Linked DNA regions of Homo sapiens: region 1 is linked to region 2. The links come from fine-mapping of genetic effects on gene expression. A gene starts in region 2. The other region holds a variant in brackets. All regions are shown on one strand. Distances are between the middles of the regions.

The links. PIP is the estimated chance that this variant, and not a neighbour inherited with it, causes the effect.
Region 1: its variant is the best candidate, but not a certain one, in a credible set for the expression of ACVR1B in monocytes (TOPMed, PIP 0.71).

Annotation. Positions count from the first base shown.
Region 1 is chr12:51,987,633-51,991,902 of GRCh38, forward strand. ACVR1B (activin A receptor type 1B) reads left to right here. Exons shown (of 9, transcript NM_004302.5): 8 at 4,231-4,270. It also overlaps the pseudogene RNU6-574P. Among named protein-coding and RNA genes, the nearest start is that of TAMALIN, 17 kb to the right of the region's middle. The variant C/T (reference allele first, on the strand shown) is at 2,225.
Region 2 is chr12:51,950,020-51,954,289 of GRCh38, forward strand. It overlaps ACVR1B (activin A receptor type 1B), which reads left to right and starts at 1,680. Exons shown (of 9, transcript NM_004302.5): 1 at 1,680-1,815. The coding sequence starts at 1,725. RefSeq lists an enhancer at 1,458-2,077 and silencers at 1,535-1,594, 1,625-1,674.

The sequences.
Region 1 (4,270 bases), 38 kb after region 2:
AGTGATTGAAAAAAAGAACTGGTGGTGCTCACTTCGCCAGCACATATACTAAAATTGGAACAATACAGAGAAGGTTAGCATGGCCCCTGCACAAGGATGACATGCAAATTCCTGAAGCGTTCCATATTTTTTAAAGACCTAGTATTTGATAGCACCACAGGGTGACTATAGTCAATAATATAATTGTACATTTTAAAATAACTGAAAGAATATAATTAGATTGTTTGTAACACAGTGTAAATGCTTGAAGGGATGGATATCCCATTTTCCCTGATGTGATTATTATGCATTGCATGCCTGTATCAAAACATCTCATGTACCCCATAAGTATATACATCTACTGTGTTCCCACAAAAATTAAAAATTAAAAAAATCTAATCTACAAAAAATATGACAAGTCTTCCAGCAGAACTGTTTTGTATATTAATACCCTTTTCCAGCTTCCATTTATGACATGTTTGGTAAAATCCAAATTATGGAAATAGTGCCCAGGTAGTATTCATGGAATTGTACCTCTTAAATTTTGATCAGTATATGCAGTAAAACAGACTAAGAGGCCAGGCGCAGTGGCTCACGCTTGTAATCCCCAGCACTTTGGGAGGCCAAGGCAGGCGGATCACGAGGTCAAGAGATCGAGACCATCCTGGCCAACATGGTGAAACCCTGTCTCTACTAAAAATACAAAAATTAGCAGGGCATGGTGGTGCACGCCTGTAGTCCCAGCTACTTGGGAGGCTGAGGCAGGAGAACGCTTGAACCCTGGAGGCGGAGTTTGCAGTGAGCCAAGATCGAGCCACTGCATTGCAGCCTTGCGACAGAGCGAGACTCCATCTCAAAGAAAAAACAAACAAACTAAGAAAAATCTGGTCACACAGGTCTTAAACTGTGAATAAGTTTATTTCTTCTTATGACATCCAGAAATTGAGGCTAAATATATAATAATGCTAACATTTATTCACCACTTGCTATGTATAAGCTCATTTAATCTTTACTACTACAAGTAAATAATAAGTAGGTGCTATTATCATCGCCATTTTACAAATGAAGAAAATGAGTCACAGAGAAGTTAGGAAATTTGTCTAAGGTCACATAACTATTTTAGTAAACAAGGGTTCAGACTCGGACAGGCTGAGGCCAGGGCTTAAGCCTGTAACTACCCCTTAGATAATTACCAAGTCCAATTCTCTATTTAAAAATATTTCCCAGGCTGGGCACTGTGTCACACCTGTAATCCCAGCACTTTGAGAGGCCAGGGTGGGCTGATTACCTGAGGCCAGGAGTTTGAGACCAGCTTGGGCTACATGGTGAAACTCTATCTTTACAAAAATAAAAAAATTAGCCAGACATAAAGGCCAGGCATGGTGGCTCACGCCTGTAATCCCAGCACTTTGGGAGGCCAAGGTGGGCGGATCACCTGGGAGTTCGAGACCAGCCTGGCCAATGTGAAGCCCTATCTCTATTAAAAATACAAAAATTAGCCGGGTGTAGTGGCGGGCGCCTGTAATCTCAGCTACTCAGGAGGTTGAGGTAGGAGAGACTCCATCTCTACTTAAAAGAAAAAAAATTGTCTCATTAGCTCAAGACAGCAGGGTTTTTTTGTTTTGTTTTGTTTTTCTTTTTCTGGAAAAGGGCTTGAGAAAAATTAATTGGCTTTTTATTTTTATTTTTTTGAGAGAGGGTTTCTCTTTGTCACCCAGGCTGTATTGCCATGGCACAATCTTAGCTCACTGCAACCTCCGCCTCCTGGGTTCAAGCCAGTCTCCTGCCTCAGCCTCCCGAGTAGCTGGGATTACAGGTGCCCACCACCACTGCGGGCTGATTTTTCTGTTTTTAGTAGTGATGGGGCTTCATTGTGTTGGCCAGGCTGGTCTCGAACTCCTGACCTCAGGTGGTCCACCTGCCTTAGCCTCCCAAAGTGCTAGGATTATAAGCGTGAGCCACTGTGCCTGGCCTAAATTGGCTTTTTAAAACTATCTTTTTATTATGGAAAATCTTTCTAAGTTTGTAGTTCTTAAAGATGAGGACTTAAAAAAATGCAGTGCTATTACCACACTTTAAAAAATGAACATTAGGCCGGGCGCGGTGGCTCATGCCTGTAATCTCAGCACTTTTGGAGGCCGAGGTGGGCTGATCACAAGGTCAGGAGTTTGCAACCAGTCTGGCCAACATAGTGAAACCCCGTCTGTACTAAAAATACAAAAAAATTGCCAGGTATGGTAGCGTA[C/T]GCCTGTAGTCCCAGCTACTTGGGAGGCTGAGGAAGGAGAATCACGTGAACCAAGGAAGTGGAAGTTGCAGCAAGCCGAGATCGTGCCACTGCACTCCAGCCTGGGCAACAGTGGAGACTCCGTCTCAAAAAAGGAAAAAAAAATGAACATTAGGGGTCAGGTGCGGTGGCTCGCACCTGTAATCCCAGCACTTTGGGAGGCTGAGGCGGGCAGATCACCCGAGGTCAGGAGTTCAAGACCAGCTTGGCCAACATGGTGAAACCCCGAATCTACTAAAAATACAAAAATTAGCCGGGCATGGTGGCAGGCACCTGTAATCCCAGCTACTCGGAGGCTGAGGCAGAAGAATCGCTTGTACCCGGCAGGTGGAAGTTGCATTAAGCTGAGATTGCGCCATTGCACTCCAGCCTGGGTGGCAAGAGTGAAACTCACACACACACACACAAATTTAGTGCTTTTTTTTTTTTTTTTTTTTTTGAGACAGAGTCTCACTGTCACCCAGGCTGGAGTGCAGTGGCGTGATCACAGCTCACTGTAGCCTCCACCTCTCCAGGCTCAGGGGAACCTTTCACTCCAGCCTCCTGAGTAGCTTGGGACTACAGGTGCACCACCATGCCCTACTAATTTTTGTATTTTTTGTGGAGACAAGGGTTTTGCCATGTTGCCCAGGCTGGTCTTGAACTCCTGTGTTCAAGCAATCCTTCCACCTCGGCCTCCCAAAGTGCTAGAATTAGAGGTGTGAGCCATTGTGCCTGGCAAACATTAATGTCACTTAACATCTAGTCAGTGTTGAGATTTCCCCAGTCTCCTAAATTTTTAAAGCAGTTTGTTCAAATCGGGGTTCCAATAAGTTTTATCCCCTGCAGTTGATGAATACACCTCCTACATTTCTTGTCTACATGTTCCCCCTCATTTTTTCTTCCCACTCTGTTTTTTCGGAGAATCCAGGTCATTTGTCCTGTAGAATTTCCCAGGCTAGATTTTGCAGATTGCTTAGGTAGAGTTCACATATTCTACTCTTCCTGGTATTTCCTATGAATTGGTAGTTAGATCTGGCAGCTAGAATCATTTCTGGGGGTTCGGGGACACGTATCCTTCACAGGGGTTCCTCTGTCCTTCTGTGACAAGTTGCGTAGCATTGGTTCTCTATTTTTGTGTCGTTAACGTGCCGTGGTGATATTGTCCAAAACTAAGCGAATGATTACTTCCCCTACATATGTATTTGGTTCCCATGATATATAGTTGGAATAGGAGAGGCAGAAAAAATACTTGATTCTTTCCACTTATTTACCATTTTTCAAAATAATGAGGTGGTTCTGTAGCCTCCCACAGAGGTAGGTGACTGAAATTTCCTTTTTTAGACTTTAAAAATATTTGTTTCCATTGAAGTTATTTGTCTTATTGTTACTTAAAAGTTCCCATCTTTGCTCAGTTGGGAGCTTATCAAGTTGGTGCCTTTTGATGTGACCCCCAGTAGTCTTTGATAGATTCCTTGCTTTGGCTATGAAAAAAAATGTTCCTGGCTACTCTTTTGTATTTCTTTTTGTTTAGTTGTTTTGTTTGAGACAGAGTCTTGCACTCTTGTCCAGGCTGGAGTGCAGTGGCATGATCTCTGCTCACTGCAACCTCTGCCTCCAGGGTTCAAGCTATTCTCCTGCCTCAGCCTCCCTAGTAGCTGGGACTACAGGTGTTTGCCACCATGCCTGGTTAATTTTTGTATTTTTAGTAGAGATGGGGTTTTACCGTGTTGGCGGGGCTGGTTTCAAACTACTGATCTCAGGTGATCCGCTTGCCTTGGCCTCCCAAAGTGCTGGGATTACAGGCATGAGCCACCATGCCCGGCCCCTTTTGTGTATTTCTTGTTCCATACTTAGAATTAACTAACTTTCTAAGGAACCTTAGGGGGTAGTGGTATTTACAGAGCACAGTGTAGGTTTTGTCACCGGCTTCTGAGTAATCTTTTCCTGCTGTTGATAACTCAGGTAGATACTTTCTTTTCTCCCAGGAGTCCATGAAGAATATCAGCTGCCATATTACGACTTAGT
Region 2 (4,270 bases):
CTAGCCTCCAGAACAGTGAGAGAATACATTTGTATTTTAAGCTACCCAGTTTGGTAGTAGGAAACTAACACAGTAACCTAGCACTGTGTGCACCACAGCTTGGTGGATAGAGCATGGATTGGAAACCACTTAGACGGACTGGGTGGGGTGTGCCTATTTGGGGGAGATGAGGGAGAGGAGAATAAGTTATTTACTCATCCAGCTACACTGACCAACTTGTAGACAATGCCTCCCCATGACTTTATGTGATTGTGTGTACACTGTGTCTGGCGAGTGTGTCTTCAGCTTTATTTTTTCCGGATATGACGATGGGAGTTCTTCAGGTTGGTGAAACTTAGAAGGTGAGAATTCCATTTAAGCAACTGTTCTCCCTATCTCTTGGCCATCCTTTCCACCCCTAGATCTCAGATGGTGAAGCTGTGCTTAGAGAGGTTCAAACCTTGCCCAAGTTTTCACAGCTAGTTAGTAGGAAGCAGAATTCAGATCCAGAATTCTCTGGCTGCAAAAATTCTGCCCTTTCCTTTATATCAAGTTCTTTCTCAAGCTAAAGAAACTGACCTCTTTTCAGAAAGATACGGAGTGATTTGTTTACTTTCTTAAGCATTTCTTCTAGATTTGAAAGTAACATTTATTTGAAAAATATTTAGAAATTATTGAAATGTTAAAAGTAAAAAAATTATGGCAATAACTACTGTTACTATTGGGTAAATATCCTTCCAGTCTTTTTTTCCTATAAACACATATTATCAGTACAATTTGAATAATACTGTAAACAGTGTTGCATTTTGCTTTTTTAATTTAACATTATCTTGTAAGCATTTTCTCATGTCAATAGTTTTTGTAAACAGGATTTTAAATTACTAAATAATGTTCCATCATATGGATGGGCCATAATTTAACATTTTCTATTATTGTCTACTTAGTTTCTACCTTTTTTACAATGATAAATATACAGTTAACATTTTTCATAAACATCTGTCCTCTTATTATTTCTTGAGGACAGGGGACAATACTGGGTAAATGGATATGAAGATTTTAAGGCATTTGATGCATAATGCCAATTGTTTACCAAAAGGGTTCTACCTACCAGCCCAATCAGAGTGCCTCACACGGCACCCTCACCCATACTGTCATCAATAAAGAGCTTTGCTATGTTCTGAAAAGGCGCGTGCCGCGATTCCATCACACAGGCTGCCGCGTCCAGAGGATGGCAGGGGGCGAGGCGAGGCAGGGAAACCAGTTAGGAGACCGCGGCGATGATCCCAGGGGACGCGCTGGGGGCTTGAGGCTAGGCGCAGGGATGGAGGAACTGGAACACGCACGGGATTCGTAGAATATTCGACGGGGGCGGGGGATCGACTCTGATAAGATAATTCTGCACTGCGTGGGGTGCAGGAGAGGGAGGAGACTGCACGTTCGGCTCCGGCCTCCTCCGCGCCGGGCTCGGCACCGATCCGCGAAGTTGGCCGAGGCGTGAGCCCCGCCCACCCCTTTAACAGGGACACTCCCCTTTAAGGCGGGCGCCCGCGCGCGCCCCGGCCCCGCCCTTCGGGGGCGCGCGCGGCGGCCGCGGCGCCGGCTCCGCCGGGAGCGCACGTGCAGGCGCCGGGCGGAGGAGAGGGAGGCGGGAGCCGGGCCGCGGGAGGAGGGGAGGCGCCGGGGGCGCGCGCGCGCGCGCTGGGCGCTGCTGGGCTGCGGCGGCGGCGGCGGCGGCGGTGGTTACTATGGCGGAGTCGGCCGGAGCCTCCTCCTTCTTCCCCCTTGTTGTCCTCCTGCTCGCCGGCAGCGGCGGGTCCGGGCCCCGGGGGGTCCAGGGTGAGTCCTGGGACGGGGGGCGGGGGCCGGGATGGAGAGGGCCCGGCAAGGGCGAGGCCTCGAGCCGCGGCCGCTGGACTACAGCGCGCCCCCTCCCCACGAGCACAATATGGCCGGGTGGGGGGCGCAGAGGAGTCGGGGTGACCCCCAGTCAGCTTCCCCGATCTCCGAGGCGCAGCCGCCCGGCGGCGACGGAGCTCACGCCGGGCCCCTGGGGACCCGAGCCCTGTTCCAGGCGGAACTGGATTCGGGCAGTTCTCAGGGGTCGCGCTCCCAGCGCCCTCGTGTTCCAGAGAGGGGAGTCTGAGCCTCCAGCTCCAAGATTTGGAGGTCCGTGGTTTCTGCCCTTCACCGTGTCCAGGGGCGGGGGGCTTTCTTCCCTCCCTCCAGGTGCTCCTGGGGGGCGTCTTTCTCCCGCCAAGACTGTGGGGTTCGGGCGGTGGGGTCTTAGCCTCTCCGAGGGAACCTGATGTTGAGAGTCCGCGCACCTCAGACTGTAGGGGAAGGGGTCTCTAACCTTTCCTTCAGGTCCTGCACTTGGCGTGTTTCTTCCCCTCCCTCCACTGCCTCCCTAATGTTCTGGGAAAGGGAGTCACATTTCCCCTTCACTCAATCCCTTGAGTTCAGTGGGGCAATCCCCCCTCCGCCCTCCGGCACTCATGCCCCGTGGAGGCTATTTGGAGGAAGTGGGACGAACAGGCCCCTAAACCTTTTTGGAGCCTGGCTTTGGAATCCCTAACCCTATGGAACCGAGTTCCCCAAGGGTTGATGTGAATCTAGGTGTATTTGCTTTCCTCCTCGCCTCCCCCACCCTACCCCGGGGGGCCCATTCAGTTAATCACTTTGTGGATGCCTTTCAGGTGAAATCCTGGAACCTGTCTCCAAACCCCCAAGATTATTTAAAGATCCCACCACTGGACTGTATTCCCGGCCCTTGGTCAGTACTTATTTACCTTCCTACACGATGCCTCTTCCCAGCCCGCCCACCCTCACACACCCCTTACCTCCCAATCCCCACAGTCTGCGGCTCGCCTTATACCACCCCCCCACTCTCCTCTCTGTAGAAGCGGGTACCTTTTTGCGGGACACTTCGCTGGCTGTGTTGTTTTTGAGGCTTTGGGGGCTGAGAAGAGCAGATGAAACCCTAAAATATTTCATTTAAGAGAGTCTTGGCGAATGTGTTTTGGCCTTGGGGTAGCAGATGAAGGTTATATTTGGCAGTTATATTGAAGCGATTATTGACCCACAGATGGATCTGGGAGAGATGATCAGGATTGTATTCGCTCCTGACGTACAAAGCCTGATGCTTTGACTTCTCAGCAGCCCCTAACCTTCCAGCAATGGGAGATAAAGTGTGTTCTGTGGCTCTCTTCTCTTACACTAAAAATAATGATTCTCAGGTGGGTTCAGTCGTCTTTAATAAACCAGACAGTCAAGAAAAGACACCATGCCACTTTGGAATCTCAAAAACAAGTTCATTATCTCCGGCTTTGATATTTGTTCCCAGTGGTGGAGCCTGTGCAGCGGGGTCTTTGTTCACGGGCTAATGCTTCTCCTAAGCACCTCGTGTGTGTTCTTCGGCCTCACTGCTCTGTGGCTTAGGTATCTGTGCTGTGGGGTTTGAGAAACATGGTGAAGGTGTATGAACAGAGCTTGACATTTGTGGTGAGATAATGATTTGCATGAATAAGGATGTTCGTCGGGCCTTATTAAGGGCCATGTTTTTGGAATGTGTAACATAATGTTCTCTACTGGGTAGTAAAAAAAAAAAAAAAGGGAGATTGAACCTCTAGGTTTGTCATTTTATGTGTGTATGTATAAATCTTTAAATCCTCATATAGGAATTTTTATCCTGCCCCTAATATATCCAGGATTTTTAACAGTCATTTCCCTGCTGATTTGATGTAGTGTTTGTGGGGTTTTTCTGGTTGTGAGCCTAGTTAAGAATGTTTGATAATCCAAGTGGTTCTGAATGGGGCAGAGTTCATTTTTTTGTAACCTTCCTAAAATGGATGTTTGTGGGGGTTAAGGTGGGTGAGTAAAATAGGGAGTTCGTTTCTTTTTTTGGTAAATTGGAAATTAGGTTGTGTGTCCAGCAAACATTCTCCAGGGCCTTTAAACTTCTTGGCCAGACACTACAGTTTTTTCCAGGACACGTCTAGTTGCCAATAGTGTATGCTATGGAGACCACTGCTGCAAAGGGCTTAAAGTAAAACGTCAGTTCTGGGAAAATAGAGGCTGTGGGATAACAAGAAGTTGATTTTTTTCCCCTCCCCTGCATTTCCTATATAGTGCTCCCCTACGTGGGCTGGAGGAGTGACAGAGCCAGACAGCTCTGATGCCTGATACTTGGACTTGATGTGAGGGGCAGTAAGGGATAGGTGTTTCTATTAATTAATGAATTAACTAGGACTTAGTAAAAGGCCAGTGATAAGGAGAATGAGTTTCAGTTAGA